Homo sapiens: one gene and its partner. The protein of the gene in region 1 binds, or shares a complex with, the protein of each later gene. Each region holds a gene or a part of one and is shown on either strand. Other genes may lie near its edges.

What was found.
Region 2: ZBTB8OS (region 1) and RTRAF share a complex: the UniProt entries of both Homo sapiens proteins name them as parts of the tRNA-splicing ligase complex.

What each region holds. Positions count from the first base shown.
Region 1 is NC_000001.11:32,624,355-32,634,802, forward strand, and holds part of ZBTB8OS (protein archease), read right to left. Parts: intron 10,445-10,448; exon of another isoform or gene 10,439-10,444; coding exon 10,414-10,438; exon of another isoform or gene 10,362-10,413; coding exon of another isoform or gene 10,348-10,361; intron 9,757-10,347; exon of another isoform or gene 9,719-9,756; coding exon 9,597-9,718; intron 9,374-9,596; coding exon 9,291-9,373; intron 9,001-9,290; coding exon of another isoform or gene 8,956-9,000; exon of another isoform or gene 8,225-8,955; intron 7,992-8,224; coding exon of another isoform or gene 7,968-7,991; exon of another isoform or gene 7,854-7,967; intron 7,526-7,853; coding exon 7,473-7,525; intron 3,512-7,472; coding exon of another isoform or gene 3,423-3,511; intron 3,191-3,422; coding exon 3,154-3,190; intron 1-3,153. UniProt on the Homo sapiens protein: Component of the tRNA-splicing ligase complex required to facilitate the enzymatic turnover of catalytic subunit RTCB. Together with DDX1, acts by facilitating the guanylylation of RTCB, a key intermediate step in tRNA ligation.
Region 2 is NC_000014.9:51,992,524-52,002,971, reverse strand, and holds part of RTRAF (RNA transcription, translation and transport factor protein), read right to left. Parts: intron 9,250-10,448; coding exon 9,150-9,249; intron 4,479-9,149; coding exon 4,392-4,478; intron 3,265-4,391; coding exon 3,176-3,264; intron 1,175-3,175; coding exon 1,106-1,174; intron 1-1,105. UniProt on the Homo sapiens protein: RNA-binding protein involved in modulation of mRNA transcription by Polymerase II. Component of the tRNA-splicing ligase complex and is required for tRNA ligation.

The DNA of each region.
Region 1 (10,448 bases):
AAGGGCAGAGACTTCGCTTATCCTATTACATTTCTACCTCGAGTGCATAAAAAAAAGTCTGAAACACTGGAGGCACTTGATAAGTATTTGCTGAATGCATGCATAAATTCATGGATGGATGGCATATGGATTCATGGAGAGAAGGTAAAGACAGTATTAAAACCAGGAAGGTATTTTTAAACCAAGAAATATTCCAGGAACCAGATGTTTTAATAAGCTATTTGTAAAACATTCCTTTTTGCTTTGAAAAGTTGATTGGCTGGGCCCAGTGGCTCATGCCTGTAATCTCAGCACTTTGGGAGGCCGAGGCAGGTGGATCACCTGAAGTCAGGAGTTTGAGACCAGCCTGACCAACATGGTGAAACCCCACCTCTACTAAAAATACAAAAATTAGCCGGCTGTGGTGGCATACACCTGTAATCCCAGCTACTCAGGAGGCAGAGACAGGAGAATCGCTTGAACCTGGGAGGTGGAGGTTGCAGTGAGCTGAGATTACACCACTGCACTCCAGCCTGGGCAACAGAGTAAGACTCCATCTCAAAAAAAAAAAAAGAGTTATTTGATCATTCATTCAAAAAATAAGAAGTAGCTGGGTGCAGTGGCTCACGCTTATAATCCCAGCACTTTGGGAGGCCAAGGTGGGTGGATCACCTGAGGTCGGGAGTTCGAAACCAGCCTGGCCAACATGGTGAAACCCAGTCTCTACTAAAATACAAAAATTAGCCTGGCATGGTTGCATGGGCCTGTAATCCCAGCTACTCGGGAGGCTGAGACACGAGAATCGCTTGAACCTGGGAGGGGGAGGTTGCAGTGAGTAGAGGTCACGTCACTGCACTCCAGCCTGGGTGACAGGGTGAGACTGTCTCAAAAAAAAAAAGAAAGAATAATAATAATAAAAAAAACTGTTGGCTGGGCGCGATGGCTCACGCCTCTTTTGGGAGGCTGAGGTAGGTAAATCACCTGAGCTCAGGAGTTCGAGATCAGCCTGGCCAACATGGTGAAACCCCATCTCTACTAAAAATACAAAAAATTAGCCAGGTATGGCGTCATGTGCCTGTAATCACAGCTACTTGTGAGGCTGAGGCAGGAGAATCGCTTGAACCTGGGAGGCGGAGGTTGCAGTGAGCTGAGATCGTGCCACTGCACTCCAGCCTGGGCAATAGCATGAGACTCCGTCTCAAAAACAAAACAAAACAAAACAAAACAAAACAAAACAAAAACTGTTAGGAGTACCAAGCTGGAATTGGTGGTGTGCACCTGTAAGCTCAGCTACTCAGGAGACTGAAGTGGGGGGATTGCTTGAGACTAGGAGTTTCGGATCAGCCTGGGCAACACAGCAAGGCACTGTCTCACATAAACAAAAACTCTTAGGAATAAATGAAATTAATTTGCTCACAATCCATTCTGAACACTTCCAATGACAAATATGAATTTAGAATACAGTTATGTGCCGCATAACATTTTGGTCAATGACTAACTGCATATATGATGGTGGTCTGAGAAGATTATAATGCTGTTTCTTTTTTTTTTTTTTAGATGGAGTTTTGCTCTTGTCGCCCAGGCTGGAGTGTGCAATGGCGTGATCTCCGCTCACTGCAACCTCTGCCTCCCAGGTTCAAGCGATTCTCCTGCCTCAGCCTCCCGAATAGCTGGGATTACAAGCGCCCGCCACCGCACCCAGCTAATTTTTGTATTTTTAGTAGAGATGGGGTTTCACCACGTTGGCCGGGCTGGTCTAGAACTCCTGACTTCAGGTGATTCACCCACCTCGGCCTCCCAAAATGCGGGGATTACAGGCGTGAACCACCACGCCGGGCCTATAATACTGTATTTTTACTATACCTTTTTTTGGTATTTAGAAATATAAATACACAAATATTTACCAATGTGTAACAACTGCCTATAGTATTCAGTATAGTAACATGCTGTACAGGTTCATAGCCTAGGAGCAATAGGCTATACCATATAGCATAGGTTATAGCATCTAGGTTTGTGTAAGTACACTCCATGATGTTTGCACAATGATGTAATCGCCTAAAGATGCATTTCTCAGAATGTATCCCAGTAGTTAAGTGACCTGTCTGTATCTGGCCTAAACACAGGGGTCAGCAAAATATATATAGCCCACAGGCCAAATTGCCTCTTTTTGTACAGTCCCATAAAGTAAGAGTGATTTTTACATCTTTATTTATTTACTTTTATTTTATTTTTTTGAGACCAGTCTCGCTCTGTCACCCAGGCTGGAGTGCAGTGGCATGATCTCGGCTCACTGCAACCTCTGCCACCCAGGTTAAAGTGATTCTCCTGCCTCAGCCTCCTGAGCAGCTAGGATTACAGGCGCGTGCCACCACGCCCAGCTAATTTTTGTATTTTTAGTAGAGGCTAGGTTTCACTATGTTGGCCAGGCTGGTCTCAAACTCCTGACCTAAAGCGATCTGCCTGCCTTGGCCTCCCAAAGTGCTGGGATTACAGGTCTGAGCCACCATGCCTGCCCTGATTTTTACATTTTTAAATGGTTGGGGAAAAAAATCAAAACAATGACATTTTGTTACATTTGAAAATGATAAGAAATTCAAATTTCAATGGGCATAAATAAGTTTTACTAGAATACAAGTGAACTCATTCATTTAAGTATTATCTATGGCTACTTTGGTGCTACAACAGAAGCACTGAGTAGCTGCTCTTCTGTCATTCTGGGCCCACAAATCTTAAAACATTTATTATCTGTCCATTTTACAGAAAAAAACTGCCAACTCCTGTTCCAATAGATTTTCCTACCATAGAGTGAGGCCATACAGGTCGGCAAATACAGAATCTAGAGACACACAGAAAGTAGAAGGCACAATAGAGAACATCTAGTCCAACATCTTTATTATAGGAGAAGAAATAAAGGTCAAAAAGGCAAAGAGAATTTCAAATTCCACAATAATCTGAACAAACTTGACCCTAGAACCCAATGCTGACGCCTCATCCACTAAATCAGGTGTGTATAATCACAGTATTTTAACAAAATATATCCAGACAGGTCAGAGAAGCTTGAGAAAAACTTATCACTTTACACCAGTTAGAACTAACTGAAGTTGATTGTCACATATATGAACTTTATGGTAAGGAAATTTTTCATGTTCTTAATGGCTGGATTTTAAAACATACCTGAGGGTGCTTGGACAATGAAAATTCTTCTCCCCACCTTGAGAATACAAATTAAAACATGATTAAGATTTGTTCTCTCTTTATATGTTTTAAAATAAGCCTTGTAAATGTGGTTAACATGCTAGAAAGCCAAAAGAGACAGGAGGGGGTCAGGGAGCTGTTAAGTTTCATTTTCATTTGTCAGAAGATACAGCTGTTGAGGGACGTGTGTGCAGTGTCATCATTTGCTCTCAAGGTTGATAGTTAAGGCCAGGTGCGGTGGCTCATACCTATAATCCTGGCACTTCCGGAGGCCAAAGGGAGGATCGCTTGAGCCCAGGAGTTTGAGAACAGCCTGAGCAACATAGGGAGACCTCATCTGTACACAAAATTAAAAAAATAAAAAAAGTTAGCTGGGTGTGGTGGCACATGCCTGTGGTCCCAGCCACTCACGAGGAGGAGGCAGGAAGATTGCTTGAGCCCAGAAGTCAAGGCTGCAGTGAGCTGTGATTGCACCACCGCACTCTAGCCTGGGTGTCAGGGCAAGACTGTGTTTCAAAAGAATTTTTAATTATAGGCCAGGCGCGGTGGCTCATGCCTGTAACCCCAGCACTTTGGGAGGCCGAAGCAGGTGGATCATCTGAGGTCGGCAGTTGAGGTCGGCAGTTTGAGACCAGCCTGACCAACATGGAAAAACCCTGTCTCTACTAAAAACACAAAATTAGCCGGGCGTGGTGGCGCATGTCTGTAATCCCAGCTACTTGGGAGGCAGAGGCAGGAGAATCGCTTGAACCCAGGAGGTGGAGGTTGCAGTGAGCCAAGATCGCGCCACTGCACTCCACCCTAGGCAACAGAGCGAAATGAAAAAGGTCAGGCGCGGTGGCTCATGCCTGTAATCCCAGCACTTTGGGAGGCCGAGGTAGGCGGATCACCTGAGGTCAGGAGTTCAAGACCAGCCTGGCCAACATGATGAAACTCTGTCTCTACTAAAAATACAAAAATTAGCCAGGCGTGGTGGTAGGCACCTGTAATCCGAACTACTCAGGAGGCTGAGGCAGGAGAATCGCTTGAGCCAGGAGGCGGAGATTGCAGTGAGCTGAGATCATGCCACTGCACTCCAGCCTGGGCAACAGAGCGAGACTCTGTCTCAAAAAAAAAAAAAAATTTAATTCTAGTGGCCAGGCACAGTGGCTCCCACCTGTAATCCCAGCACTTTGGGAGGCAGAGGTAGATGAATCCAGGAGTTCAAGACCAGCCTGGCCAACATGGTGAGAACTCGTCTCTACTAAAAATACAAAAATTAGGCAGGCATGGTTCCATGCGCCCGTGGTCCCACCTACTCGGGAGGCTGAGGCACAAGAATGGTTTGAATCTGGGAGGCGGACATTGCAGTGAACCAAGATCACATCATTGCACTCCCAGCCTGGGCAACAGAGTGAGACTGTCTAAAAAACAAACAAACAAAAAATTAATTTTAAAAACTTTAAAAAAAGGTTGATAGTTGATCTCAAAATAAATGTGCCCCAATATAGTGTACCTATGGTGGAATCTCAATAAACATTGTTTAGTAAATATTGTTTCAAAACAGAGTAGTAACATATTCAAAATTTTTACTATCCTCAGTTATGAAACTAGTTAAGTAGGCTGGGTGCGGTGGCTCACACCTGTAATCTCAGCACTTTGGGAGACTGAGGCAGGAAGATAGCTTGAGCTCAGGGGTTTGAGACCAGCCTGGGCAATGTAGCGAGACCCTGTCTCTACAAAAGATTAAAAAAAAAAATTAGCCAGGCATGGTGGCATATGTCTGTTGTCCTAGCTAGGTGGGAGGTTGAGGTAGGAGGATTGCTTGAGCCCAAAAGGTCATGGCTGCAGTGAGCCATGATCATGCCACTGCACTCCAGGCTGAGAGACAAAGCAAAACCCTCTCTCAAAACAAAAACAACAAAAACAAAACAAAAAAGAAAAACAAAAACTAATTAAATAATACCTCCCACTGGAGAAAGCAAGTCTGAGTACCACAAAGGCAAAATACTAGACTCTATAATACAGTCCGAACTTGGTTTACACTTTACAACTTTTCCAAAAATATCCATGATCTGTATATAGAAGGCCCTAGAAAAGTAATCTAGAACTTAGGATCAGTCTCCTCTCTGTCTTTGACACTAATGTGAGTGAAGATCACAACGTGGTATAATAGAAAGAGCAAAGCTTTAAAATTCTGTTCAAACACTTATTAGCTAGTACTTTTGGACATGCTTGTTTCTTTTTTTTTTTTTTTTTTTTTTGAGCCAGAGTCTCGCGCTGTTGCCAGGCTGGAGTGCAGTGGCACAATCTTGGCTCACTGCAACCTCTGCCTCCTGGGTTCAAGCGATTCTCCTGCCTCAGCCTCCTGAGTAGTTCAGATTACAGGTGCCCACCACCACACCTGGCTAATTTTTGTATTTTTAGTAGGGATGGGGTTCCACCATGTTGGCTAGGATGGTCTCAATCTCTTGACCTCCTGATCTGCCCGCCTCGGCCTCCCAAAGTGCTGGGATTACAGGCGTGAGCCACTGCACCCAGCAAGCCTGTTTCTTTACTCATTAAAAAACAACAAAAAACAAAACAAAACAAAAACACAGAGAAGATAATAAAAGATCTCACTTTACAAAAAGAAGTGAATGAAATTCAATATAAAATGGGGCCACAGGAGTTAGAGACCAGCCTAGCAACATAGCAAGACCCCATCTCTATAAAAAATTAAAAATTAGCTGAGATTAGCCAGGCATGGTGGCAGGCGCCTGTAATCCCAGCTACTCAGGAGGCTCAGGCAGGAGAATCGCTTGAACTCTGGAGGCAGAGGTTGCAGCGAGCCAAGACTGCACCACTGCCCTCCAGCCTGGGCAACAGAGCAAGACTCTGTCTCAACAACAACAAATTAGCTGGGCATGGTAGTGCGCACCTGTAGTCCCAGCTACTTGGGAGGCTGAGAAAGGAGGATCACTTGAACCCAGGAGTTCAAAGCTGCAGTGAGCCATGATTACACCACTGCACTCCAGCCTGGGGGACAGGGCAAGACCCTGTCTCAAATCAATCAATCAATCAATCAAATTAAATTAAATTAAATGGAGCCGGGCGTGGTGGTATGCACCTGTTGTCCCAGCTACTCAGGAGGCCAAGGCAGGAGGATCACTTGAGCCCAGGAGTTTGAGGATGCCTGGGCAACATAGTGAATGAGAACCCATTTCTAAAAAAATAAATGAGGCCGGGCACAGTGGCTCAAGCCTGTAATCTCGACACTTTGGGAGGGCTGATGCGGGCAGATCACCTGAGGTCAGGAGCTTCAGACCAGCCTGGCCAACACAGTGAAACCCCGTCTATACTAAAAATACAAAAAATTAGCCAGGCGTGGTAGCAGGCGCGTATAATCTCAGCTACTCGGGAGGCTGAGGCAGAAGAATCGCTTGAACCCAGGAGGTGGAGGTTGCAGTGAGCTGAGATCACACACTCCAGCCTGAGCAACAGAGCGAGACTCTGTCTCAAAAATAAATAAATAAATAATAAATGAAAATAAAATAAAAAAGCTATATGTAAAAGTAACCTAGGAGGGCCAGGCACAGTGGCTCATGCCTATTACCTCAGCACTTTGGGAGGCAGAGGCCAGAGGACTGCTTGAGCCCAGGAGTTTGAGACCAGCCTGGGCAACATGGGGAGACCCCATCTCTTCAGAAAACAAAAAAGTCAGCCAGGCATAGTGGCACACTTGGTGGTCCCAGCTATTCAGGAGGCTGAGGTGGGAGGATCCCTTGAGCCCAGGAGGCTGAAGCTGCAGTGAGCCATGACCACACCACTGTACTCCAGCCTGGGAGACAGAACAAGACCCTGTATCAAAAAAAAAAAAAAAGAAAAAAAAGAAAAAACCTAAAAAATATAATTAAGTGACTAAAGAAACCTGAGAAACAAGTCCAATCAAAGTGACCTAATCAAGTGTTTGCAAACTCTGGAAGGAAAATAAAAGTACGATTTGTTAAAAGAAGGAATTGATTTAAATAGGTCTAGAAGTGAGAACATATGAGAAAAAAAGTGTCAGTGTTTCCCATCCACTAAGCTGGGCTTTATGCTGTGCCATTTAGCAATTACACATATTCTCTCCCTAAAAAATCAACAAATTGGGAATCAGATTTAACAATTAAAATCAACTTTATTTTGTTAAGTTTCTGGTCCTTCCAAGCCCTTAGACATCCCACAAAACTCAATCTGCAAGTGGCCCTCTGATTTATGTTTCCATCTGTTTCCTTGCTCATTGAATTCAATGAAGAATATAACTTTAACTCGGTACTTAAAAGACTTTCAAAACTTACCCAATTGATCGTAATTTGAAATTTCTTTGATCAATGCTAAGTACTTTCACTTCCTAGACAGGAAGAAAAATTTTTTAATTAAAAAAAGTTCATAATAGACTATCTACTAAAAATCTTTTTGTTCTGTTTTGTTTTTTTGGACCATCTACTAAAAATTGGTAAAACCTTTTTTTTTTTTTTTTTTTTTTTTTTTGAGATGGAGCCTTACTCCATCGCCCAGGCTGGAGTACAGTGGCGTGATCTCGGCTCACTGCAACCTCCACCTCCCAGGTTCAAGCAATTCTCCTGTCTCAACCTGCTGAGCATCTGGGACTACAGGCGCCTGCCACCACGCCCGGCCAATCAATTTTTTTTGTATTTTTAGTAGAGACGGGGTTTCACCTTATTGGTCAGACTGGTCTCGAACTCCTGACCTCAGGTGATCCACCTGCCTCGGCTTCCCAAAGTGCTGGGATTACAGGCGTAAGCCACCGCGCCTGGCCTTTACAACCTTTTCTAGAAAACAATAGCACACAACTTCTGTGAAGCAAAGAAAATTAAAATGTTAGCTAAAATAGGACAACAAATGAGATATATATGTATGCAGTTTTTTTTGTTTGTTTGTTTGAGACAAGGTTTCACTCTGTTGCCCAGTCTGGAGTGCCATGGCATGATCTTGGCTCACTGCAACCTTCACCTCCCGAGCTCAAGCAATCCTCCCACCTCAGCCTCTGGAGTAGCTGGGACCACAGGCATGTGCCACTGCGCCCAGATAATTATTGTTTTTTTGTTTTTTTTGAGACAGGGAGTTTCGCCATGTTGCCCAAGCTGAGTATTAAATATATTTCAAGGAAATAAGTTTTTTCTTACATATTCAAGGGAGGTATTCTAGAAAAATGTAAGATCTAAAAATATGAGTCAAAAGAATTTCTCTGCAAGATATATGGTAGAGAACTACTCTGGGCACACAGGGGCAGTACCTCTGCCGCTGCTGTACACTGCCACTTCAATAAAAGCTGTTGTTTAACGCTGGGGGAAAACAGATATATGGTGGAGGAGGACGACATAGGATTTCAATCACTCTGAGCCTAATAAACTACTGGTAGGCACTTGAATTCTGTAGGATGAGTGACTCAGTTGATAGAATGAGTATAAGTAGTGAAGCTGGTAAAGCAGAGAATGGAGGAATTATAAAAGCAGAGAGTGCCATCTCTATTAAATAACAATGACATTGCAGATGTGTTCCCTTCTAAAGGATGACAGCAGCAAGCAATCTCCATTTGGCTTTTCCTTTTTTCATGTTAAGGAAAACTAAAAGCTGCAGTTGTTTAACTTAGGCCAATGTGACAGGGCTACTAAATTTCATGGAACAAAAGGAAAAAATGGATGGACATAAATATAGCTCAAACTTGGGAAACATAAAAAGTGTGGATGAGGCTGCGTGCAATGCTCACACCTGTAATCCCAGCACTTTGCAAAATTGAGGCAGGAGGATTGCCGGAAGCTAGGAGTTCAAGACTAGCCTCGACAACATAGCAACACCCTGTCTCTATCAAAAACAAAAACAGAAAAAAATGTGGATGAAAACTGTAGGTACATTTTTATCACACAATCCTGATTAGTGACAAATACATGAGATCTAAATACGAAATGTTCCCACATAGGCAAATGCAGGTTAACCAGGAAGTGCCCGTGGTCATTATAATCTCTGCAAATCAGTATCATCTTATTTGTATGGATTGGTTTTGTTTCACATGTCCTATTTTAAATCATCTGTTCTATTTTAAAATATGAACTAAGAATCCATTTGCTCAGTAAAAAAGAAAAACCTTTGCTTACCCGGGGTATGAAGAATTCATCAGCACTGAACTTATAAAGCCATTCATCCAAAAAGTGAAACAGAAGAGACTGTAAGTCATCTCCTACACAAGATCAAATAGTATATTTAATAATTCTGGTCTCTAAAAACATACTTGAATTTAAAAGTGCAATAAATAAATGTCTTAGGTCAGTTTAAAGAGAAAGAAAAGACTCATCCTTAATTTTCTGGTTCTTTTTGTGAAAATATACTCAGATTATGTAGAATACTGCACAATTCTATACAGTACTGTATAACAATTTCTTCCTTGTGAATAAATCATTTACCTTGGGTTTCTACTTCTACTGTTTGGAGGGGCTCCACTGTCCCAGTATCTGTCATGTAACCAAACATGGCCATTGCACATTGCTCAAATGCTTCCTCCAGAGTATCTCCCCATGCGTGTAACCTAAAGAAGTATATTCATGCTCTGTGTAATACAATCCACTGCAAGAAAGAAAATTTGATAGCAGGCAAAGTCAAAATAAATTCAGTATGATAAATACAAATTTTAAGGCCTCAATCAATTTAACAGCACTGCAACCAGGTGCTTTTCTTTTTATTATTTATTTATGATTTTTTAGACTGAGTCTCACTCTGTTGCCCAAGCTGGAGTGCAGTAGTGCGATCTCGGGTCACTGCAACCTCTGCCTCCTGGGTTCAAGCAATTCTCCTGCCTCAGCCTCACAAGTAGCTGGGATTACAGGCAGGCACCACCAGACCCGGCTAATTTTTGTATTTTTAGTAGAGACGGGGTTTTACCATGTTGGTCAGGCTGGTCTCGAACTCCTGACCTCATGATCCGTCCGCCTCAGCCTCCCAAAGTGCTGGGATTACAGGCGTTGAGCCACCACACCCGGCCTTATTTTTATTTTTTATTTTTTGAGATGGGGTCTCTCTGTCACCCAGGCTGGGGTGCAGTGGTGCAATCTCGGCTCACTGAGCCACTGAACCCTGCAAAACTGAGTGCTTTCAAACCATCATTTTCATATTGTGAAGGAACCAAAATGAGAGGAGAAAAATTAAAGATAGGGATACCAAGATTGAAACATTCAGTCTTCCTACTGACGTGGTTTCAAAGGAATGAACTCCCGCTATACTCACTGGACATCTGCTGTATGATCCAAATCTGAGGGACA
Region 2 (10,448 bases), on another chromosome or scaffold:
ACTGTCTGTTCTATAGGGAGGGTGAAATAAGCTGATCTTTAACCCAACTTCCAGTGGCTCGATTCATATACAACGAGCCAGTAAGAACCTTTAAAAGAAAACAGTGTCTTTCAGAGATACTGCCCTGGCATTAGTAACCTTTTAACACTGCTTGGCCTGCCTAAAGGGGCTGGAGGACAAAAGGCATTGGGAGATGGGGGAAGGGCGCAGGGAGGACAAACAACATAGTTGTGCCCAAGGCATTCACTACAACATCATTGCTGCAGGAGGCAGGTGTTATCAGACACTGCTGCTGCTGACCTGAGGACAGTCTCTCCACCGCTGCACAGCCAGTGAAACTTTAGGCATCTTTGGATTTCTGATATAATCTAAAAATGTTCCATATTTTCTCTTTAAGGGGAAGGTAGTCATGGGATATAGCTTTTCTCAGCCTACAAGGTAGGACTGAAAGATACCATTTCAGTCACCTGTACCTTGAACCTTACACTCCAACAGAACCCCCTGTCCCTTCACCTGGGCAGACTGACAAGCTCATGCAGACATCCACGCATGGACCCTTCTCCCCACCTACCGTAAGAGCACAGGCTCTCAAGTCAGACTGCCTGAGCTCAGTCACTTACCAACTAGGTGACCTTAGCCAAATTACTTTCTCATGTTTTATGCCAGGAAATTGAATAAAACAAGAATTTACTCTGAAGAAATAAGAGCAAGGATAGAATTTAGATAGAAAAAGAAAACTAATTTGTAGTGAGGTGTGTTCCTTCTTCTCCAGCATGAGTCAAAATAATCCAGTAAGTTTCATATGGGTAACTCATTTTAAATAAACTTCAACGGGCCACAAGCATGATTTGTGGACTGTGCATGAGCTATTTGTGGCTTTTTTAAGGTACAAAGTGAGAGGAACATGAAGTTTTTCACTCAAAAATGACCCCCTAGCCACTGAATACATTCAATTTGCTTTAGGAAGCACTGAAGTAAGCTATCCTTTCTCTAAGTTGTAGAACGTAGAATGGATATCTTAAACAGATACATGCAAAGTTTAAAATCACGGCCATACCAGAAGAAATGTTCATTAACAACTTATTTAGGATTTATAGAAACGTACCTCTTTTGTTTGATTTGCCTTAGCAACTGCATCCTGTGTCAGGCGCTCCTGAACCAAAATCCGAATTGCCTAAGAAACCCAAAAATATTTTTACTTTTTATAGGCTGTGTACCTGTCATCCTTTCTTCTATGAGCCCAGAGAATAAGGATGCTCATTTTGATGAAGTCAGAATTACCTAAGTTCATTAATAAACTCCCCATTAAATTAAAAATAAAAAAAACCCACTAATATAACGTAACCTTTCACACTTCTAGTATTTTAATAATGTTGAATGGTGCTTGCAACAATTAAAACCATTTTTTGAATAGGTAATGCACGTGACTGGTAAAAAACAACTTTAAATACAGCAAGACACATGGTAAAAAGTAGGTCTCCTTCCTACCTGAGCCTTGCGATCCCCTACAGATTCCTTACCCTCACTAAAACTGCGAAATGACGAGCATGCTTAGCACGAATACACATTTTTGACACAAAGGGTAGCAGATCATACATACTGTCTTACACTTTGCTTTTATCACTTCACTCTAGTAAAATATTTTCAAACCTTTCAAAGGACACCGTTGGTGGTTTTAATCACCAAGGCATTTCATTATGGTAGGCATGCATGCAAGTATCCATACACACTTAAAAATCAAATTTTAAAAAAATGGAATTTTAATTAGGAAGATGACAATTACAACTCAAAAATAAGTGTGAAAACTTAAACTATAATTTTTAAATAAAAAACCAAATGCTATCTTTGAAAAACCGAATTCAAACAATGTTTAACAGTTATTGCAGATGTTATTAAATAGTCTGGTTGCCAAACAGTTAATATACTGATGCTTGTACTTGGCAAACGTACTAAGATGTTTTCCATATTATGTTATTGTTTGAATGCCTCTTAAAATAACTCAAAAGGGACAAATGTGCAGCAGGACTAGAATTTTATAGCATTTTGTTGTAGTTGATTTATACTTTATCCCCTTGGGTTTTGAAGTCTAACAAAAGCATCCCAAATACGCTATGCATTGTCTGACTCTCCTCTCACTTACTTTATGATTAAAGCTGACATGATCACTATAGAACAGTTCCAAGGCAATTTACATAATTGTCGGAATAAAGAACAAGCCTTTGAAATAGCTAAATTTCACTAAAAACATTTTTGTCTTTTGGCATGCAATCTGGATTGAGAAAATCCAAGTTAACATTCAGATTCAGTATAGAAAATTTTAATAACTTAGGAATACAACAGTCTTGTTAAAACTGACATTTAATAATAAAAATCTAAAAAGCATGGTAAGTTATGGCTTAATCTCTTCTGGGTAGAGTGATATTTATCACAAAGTAGTTTACATGCACAAGGTCTAGTTAAAAGCTTTTAATCTCTTATAAAATTTCCAAGTCTGGTATCTTAAGTACCACTCCCCTGATCCACACCACTGTACTTTCACGATTACTAGGAATAAATCTTCTGAAGTTTATGATTTCTCTCAGAAACAAGAGACCTCTTTCAGATTACTGGGATTCCTGAAGTATAGTTATGAACTGAGTGGCCTATCTAGCATCGGGGACAGAAAGATTCATTTCTCAAAGAGATTTTGGGGTTATATATTTTTGACCAAATTCACCATTACTCATTTGGCATTTTCGACCATCTTAACAAATGCAGACTATGAATCATTAAAAAGACTAACTAAACAGAAGTAGGGTAATGTGGGAAAAACAATGGACCACAGGGTTATAGTGCTTAAAATCCTGGCTCTGTCATTTTCTGTGTCATCTTAGACATTATCCTCATTGAGTCTCAGTTTCTTCATATGATATATATTTTTAAAAAGATATTAGCAGCTGTCTCTAGGATTGTTGGCAGGATTGAATGAGAACATCTTTGCAAAGGATTTAGCATAGTGCAGGCAGAAAACAGAATCCAAATCAGATAAAACCATGAAATCTACTTTATGTTTCATATTCTTCTGTGTATTTTAGTCATTCAACCATAATTTTAATATCAATAGTTAATATTTAGAAAATAAAGACATTTTTCTATGTGCACAGTTTCTGTCAAGAATCAAGAACATGAAGCTGACCTTAAGCATTACCAGGTAATCATCATGACGCTGAATCTGAAGCAGGTTAGCCAAAGCCATCACACCAGCCTTAAAATCAGGATTATTTACTATAAAAGATTAAAAACAAACAAAAACTTACAACCCTGCAAACGTATAATTACAAACATATTTGTGAACATACAAAAACATTTTTAACTTTTCGGTAGCAACAAATCTCTTAGTTTTTAAAACTGCTACTCACAAGAGAAAAAAGAAAGCCCTGTAGACTATCAACAATTAAATAAATTGGTAAGATAAAATGGTTTTCCTATTACTGTATGAGACGGTCCCCAACTTAGGATGGTTAGACTTGTAATTTTTTGACCTTACAATGAGTTCAGTGGGATGTAACCCTAGTGCAAGATGAGGAAAATCTGAACTTACAGTGGTTCCAACTACAATTTTTCAGCTTTACAATGGGTCTTCCGGGGTATTAAATGCATTTTTGACTTATGATATTTTCGACTTTGGGACATGATCTCATCCTAAGTCAAGGAGTATCTGTATTTCATCAGCCAAACTGAATAATCCAATAAATGACTAATTTAACTCACATTATATTTGTCCTGTAACTTTTTCTGCAAGGCTAAATTATACAGCACTTTTAATTAACATTTCTTCCCAAGGCCATTAATTTTAGTACATAGATCCCCTCCATGGATAGTTTTCCCAAAACCTTCTCTCTAAGCAGCAGCTCTGGAGTGTCCAAGAGGCTCACTCATTCAAAAGGGTTAACTCCTAAATTATAGGTCACAATGAATTAGCCAGTGAACAAATATTTTACACATCATAATTTAGGTAATTAGATTCTTCATATTTTTAAAAAGGGAAATTACTAAAAGATATCCAGGACTTAAAATAATGGAAAATTTTACCACTTGTCTGATAGAGTCATTGGATTAAAAGAAATTTACACATTCAAAAAGGCAAACAATGACCCCCATGATTAAATACAAATCAAAACTCCAAATTACTAGAAGCAAATCAAATCAACATTCAGATATTCAAATGCAAGGGGAAGGAGAAAGCACATCATAAAAACATTATAGAGAATAAAATGTTAACATAAATGCTGTCTGCATGGATCCTTCTAAATTTACTAAAACCAAGTAAACCTGGACTTCATTCTTCAAAGAAAAAAACATTTAAAAAACCAAAAATGTTGATGTTCAATGTTATGCATTTATATACTCACCATCCAAATTGATCAATGGTTCTGCATTTTTAGTTGCATTGTCAGCAGTTTTTGAATTATCAGGTACTAAATCCTTGTATTTTTCAGCTATAAAAACAGGCAAAAATATAATTTGTACAACTGCAACTCAAGGTAAAATGACTACTGCTATTTACCAAATTTAACTGAGCCAAAATGATTACAGGTTGAGTTTCCCTTACTGGAAATGCCAATAATTTCCAATTTTAAATTTTTTCAGACTTCGGATTATCTGCATATATAAAATGGGATATTTTGGGGATGGGACTGAAGTCTAAACACAAAATTCATTTTTATGTTCAATGTACAACTTATACACATAGCCTGAAGGTAATTTCATATAATATTTTTAATAATTTTGTGCATGAAATAAAGTTTGTGTTAAGTGCTTATGTGTGGAAATTTCTACTTGTGTCCTCATGTCAGTGCTCAAAAAGTTTTGGATTTTGGAGCATTTAGGATTTCAGATTCTCGGATTAGGGATGCTTAACCTGTATAAGCATAAAACAATTCATTCAATCAAGCTTAATTTTTGCTATAGAAAATGTAAAAAGACAATGTAACTATCTTTTTGATTAAGCTAAAGCAATTACTGGACTATGTGACACAAATATCTTTTCATTAACATTTCTAAAGGCAATCATTTCAAACATGTAAATTTTAGGAAGGTAAAAATCTGCTTTTACAGCTTCCTCTGAAATCTGGGGTAGAAGAATGGGAGGAGGGTTAAGTATAGGTTACGTAAGATTAAATACAAACTCATTAAAAAGTACGCTTCCCCCCATCTTCTTTTGAATGCTGTACATAAAATCCAAAAACCTTGCTTTCCCCAAAAAAATCAATACATCAAATACACCATCATATACAAACCTCAAACTTATTTCATGGAAACTTGAAATTCAGAATTCCAAAGGTAGATTTTATTATTTTCATTTGAAAAACAATACTTCAAAGGAATTCAAAAATAAAAACACTTATTAATAATTCACTAAACTTAATGTTCAAAATGGCATCTTAGGCTATACAGTGCTTATGGGATCTGTTAATGAAACGAGGAAAAAATAAAAGCATAAAATTTAAGTCAGAGTTAAAAAGGCTTCCACTGGCCAAATCTGGAACAGTATCAACAGCAAAATACGTGATGACAGAAAGGATTATAATCCATTGAATAAAATAAAAATCCATGTATCTATACTGATTTAAACAAGTAAATTAGAGATGGGAAAACTTACAAGAGAAAGCCAACAAATAAATGTAGAAAAAATGATGAAATTAGAGAACACCTTTTGTCGATTAACATAATAAATGACTGAGGCAAGAATCATCATATGGTTGCTAAAACTAGTGGGGGAAACTTGAGGCGCAAAAACATAATTGATACAGTCTCAAAGTACCTCCCCACAAGATATATTTATTACAAAGAGGAAAATAGTAACTTTACAGTGGAGAAACCATAACCTAGTGATCAAAGTAACATAACTAGTAATGGGACATATCGCTATCACGTATCTCCTAATATGATGCACTAAAAAGAACACATCACTTCTGTGTTACTCCTAACAAAAGTATAAACCCCAAATCTAATCATGAGGAAACATCATATAAATCCAAATTGAGGGACACTCTACAAAATAAATGTCAGGGTCATGAAGCACAAATAAAGACAGGAACTGTTCCAGATTTTAAGATACTAAGACAGATGTAACAACTAATGCGGTGCATAATCCAGGATTGCTCTGGGTTATTTTTTTCTTTCGAGAGAAGTGGGGGGTTTGGTAAAATGTGAATAAATAATAGTATATCAAAGATAACTTCCTGATTTTGATCACTGTACTGTGGTTATATAAGACAAAGTTGTTTTTAGGAAATGCACTTTAAAGTGTTTAAGAGTAAAAAGGAATCATCTATAATTTACTATCAAATGGTTTGGAAAAAAATGGTGTGTGCCTCTGTGTAGAGAGAAGGATGAAGCAAATGAGGTAACACGCTACATTTGTAGACTTGAGGTATATGAAAATCTTTGTACTATTTTGTAATTTTTCTATACATCTGAAATTATACATTTAAAAAATTTCAGTTATTGATCATGTTGACAAGCTACCAAAAGGCTTCAAAAAATAGTAGAGCGCAAATAATAAAAACTCACAATGGTTTCAGCAAATTTTAAAATAAGTAACTTAAAAGTCAAGGAGGCAACATATCAATGTAAAACCACAAAAGAACATCAGCGCCTCCTACCGATTAGAGACAGTATTATTTGACCAATTTTCAAGTCTGTTTTTGCAATTCTGAATTTTAATAAACAAAACTTGTTTTCTAGCTTAGACTTTTAATATACTTTTGATACCATTCACCTTCAAGTATATGTTGACTTCCTTTTTCAATATTGAAAAATTTACATTCCACACACAAGCTTCTTTTATTCACTAAAAGAACATGCTATTACTGAGAAATACATGTACTTACTAAAGTCAACTGCAGGTATACATGACCATATGCATCTACCATTGAAGGTTAACGGGTTATAAAAATGGAACAAATAGAATAAAACAAATAAACTGAGATGTAAGAATTTGGGAATAAATGAAAAACAGTTTTGATAAGCTACAAATTGGCTCATATACAATTCCTACCAATCCAGAGCAGGGTAGATAAAAAGACCTTGTTAAAGGCCCTAAAATCAATACTACACTAAAGCCATAAGGCTTATGAATACATGTATTTTCTAAAGAAAGAAAAGTTTTTTTTTTTTAAATTAAATGGAAAAGTAAACGAAGTCTCAAATTGAGCTTTCCTTAAGATTTTTGCCATAAGGCTTCTGAAATTTAAGTCTGAGGCATCAGCAAAAAATTGGCTGATGCTCCAAATCAGTGTATGTAAACACTCACATATACTGCATTCGCCACACATTACTGAAATTGATAAGCACCTGTTGTGTGCAAGAAACTATGTCAGGTACTGTGACAGACACAATATTGACCTGTACCCCCCAAGATGTCCATGTCCTGATCCCTGGAACCTGTGTATGTGTTACCTTACATGGCAAGATTTGCAAATATGATAAAATTAAGGATCTTGAGATAGGGGATTATCCTGGATTATCCAGGTGGGCTCAGGAGGATCAGAGCCAGAGACAAAGTTATGACAATGGAAGCAGAATCAGATAAGAGACTGGAAAATGCTATGCTGCTAGACTTGAAGAAGGAAGAAGGGGCCAGAGTCAAGGAATTCAGGCAGCCTCTAGAAGTTAAAAAAGGAAAGAAACAGATTCCCCCGAGAGCCTCCAAAAGGAACCTGCCTTGCTGACAACTTGACATGAACCCAGTGAGGCTAATGTTGGCCTTCTCATTCTAAAATAATAAATTGTGTTTTCAGTCACTGAGTTTGTAGTAATTTGTTACAGCATCAATTGGAAGCTAAGAGAGGTACCATGTAGGAATCAAAGCTGAGTATCAGTTTACAAATTACTGGGACGAATAAGACATAGAAGCAAAATGGAAAGTGGTTAATGACTTAAAATGTATAGGGTTAAAAGCTATGGAAGTTCAGAGGGAAATTATACTGCTGCTAAGACATAAGACAGCATATGAGATGGATCTTAAAAAGATGGGTAGGATTTAGATGTGTAGATAGAATGAAATGGTATATTAGCCAAGGGAAAAGTGTGAACAAAGAAACAGAGGGGGAAATGGGATATAAACAGGAAGCACTATTATTCTAATTTAGCTGGGATGTCAAGATGTGAATACAGGTTGGATATCAGTCATCATTAACTACCATGCTAAGGAGCTTAAAATTCTTTTTATAGAAAATGGGAAATTAGTGTTTATGGATATGTATGTTTATTAATATGAATATGTAACTGGAACTGTTCTTTGGAAACAAGGAGTAAGTGGCATCCTAAAATAGATTAACGTTTCAGAAAGTTAGCTTGGTTGGCCATGCAGTTAAGAACAGAAGGTGACACTAATGGGAGATATTATAATACTCCTGGCAGAAAGTGACAAGAGCCTGAATTAGGATTATGCCAATGGGAATGAAGATACAACAAACATGAGAAAAAGTCAGTGTAGGTGGGATGAAGGGAAAGGGATAAGCCAAGATATAAAAAGGCTTCCAAAGTAAATAATTAAGAAGACTGTAACTAACCGAAAAACACAAAATGCAGGGGATGCAGATAAGATAATCAAATCTTGCATTTAGATGTTGGCAGGCCTTTCAAAATGAAATGGTCTAATAAGAGAAAACACCCGTTTAAAGAAAAATTGTTTTTACTATAGGTACTAACATTCAGAAGCTTCCAACCATAGAAGTATCTGTGCTAAGACAGTAAACATAAGTAATATATTCTGGCCTATAGAGTATTAATGTATATTGGCATTAGACATGTTTCAGTCTTTTGAGAAATTACCTACTGCAACAACACTTCAAAGTCCCATCAATTCTGGGACACTAAAAACAATTTAATTTGAAAGGCTAAGGTGCAGACCATATTATCAAAGTAGTGTTACTCTGTGAGAAGACAGTCAATTAGCCTTCTCCAGAGGGCACCATTTCCAAATTCTAACAGAAATATATAAACACCAATGAAAGACAATAAAAGTGCTTTTAACTTGTGATAAGAATAAACCAAAGGTAAAATAGTACTAGACAAAACAAACTGCAAAGTTCCCTACATTTTCACACTCCCTTTCCCATCTTTCCTCTCTCTTTAAAATACACATTCCCCACAAAACGTACCATTATCTCCATATTCAAGTCTAACAGCTAAACCAAGAAGCCAGTCAATAGCTTCTTGTCGATCTTGAATCTTGAAAGGACAGTTAACATCTCTGAGATACTGTGAGGGGGAAGAAAAGAAAACCACCAGTTTCATTATTACCATAAAGTCACAGAAAAAAGAATGGGAGAGTTGAAAGAGACCTTAGTTTGGATCTCTAACAATTTTTTAATAACATTACTACACTTTTGATGCAATTATATAACCCAACAGAAGGGAACATTTAAGTGTATCATCTTAAGAAAAAAAATAGAATACGACAACTTCCTCATTTTATAGATGAGAAAGCTGAGGCCTAGAGATTGACACTTGCCAAGGGTTACACAACTTACACCTGGGACTAGAATCTAAGCTTTCTGATTCCTAGTCTCAATACACATAGAGCAATTAACTAAAAAGAATAACTTTAAAAAGGATATACAATAAATCATTATCTATCTAAACCTTAACTTTCATATTATGGAAATGCCACTGAAAAGAGTAGCCATGTAACATACATGTAGGGTGTAACCAAGTAATTTAAATAAATGTCAGAAGCTGTATATTCAAATAAATGTTGCATATAATAGTATTATATGTAACATTAATTATATGTAATATAAGATTATAATAAAATCAACTTGAAGGATAATAACTGTTTAGGTTCTGATATGTTGAAATTATTCTTACTGTCATTCCAGGTGTTTCACATCAGAAATACGTGTGTGTATATGTACATATATACACACACATACATACATATTTCTTTTTTTTGAGACAGAGTCTTGTTCTGTTGCCCAGGCTGGAGTGCAATGGCACAATCTTGGCTCACTGCAACCTCCGCCTCCTGAGTTCAAATGATTCTCCTGGCTCAGCCCCCTGGGCAGCTGAGATTACACACATGCGCCACCACACCTGGCTAATTTTGTGTTTTTAGTAGAGACGGGGTTTCGCCACGTTGGCCCGGCTGGTCTCGAACCCCTGACCTCAGGTGATCCACCCATCTTGGCTTCCCAAACTGCTTGGATTATAGGCATGAGCCACCGTGCCCAGCCTAGACAATTTTTTATATTCTCCAGATACCTTTCTACATGCAGAATTCTGTACTGTCTTGTACACATGAATAGACCATAAAATGTAATATAAACAAACATAAAATCCTAAAAATATATTTCAAAGTTTTAAGAAGTCCACTGAAAATTTTAAAAATATTTTCTAAGAGCAAAGGAAAAGAATACAGTAGTATTAATAGTAGTAGTATAGAGGCATTGGCAGTAATA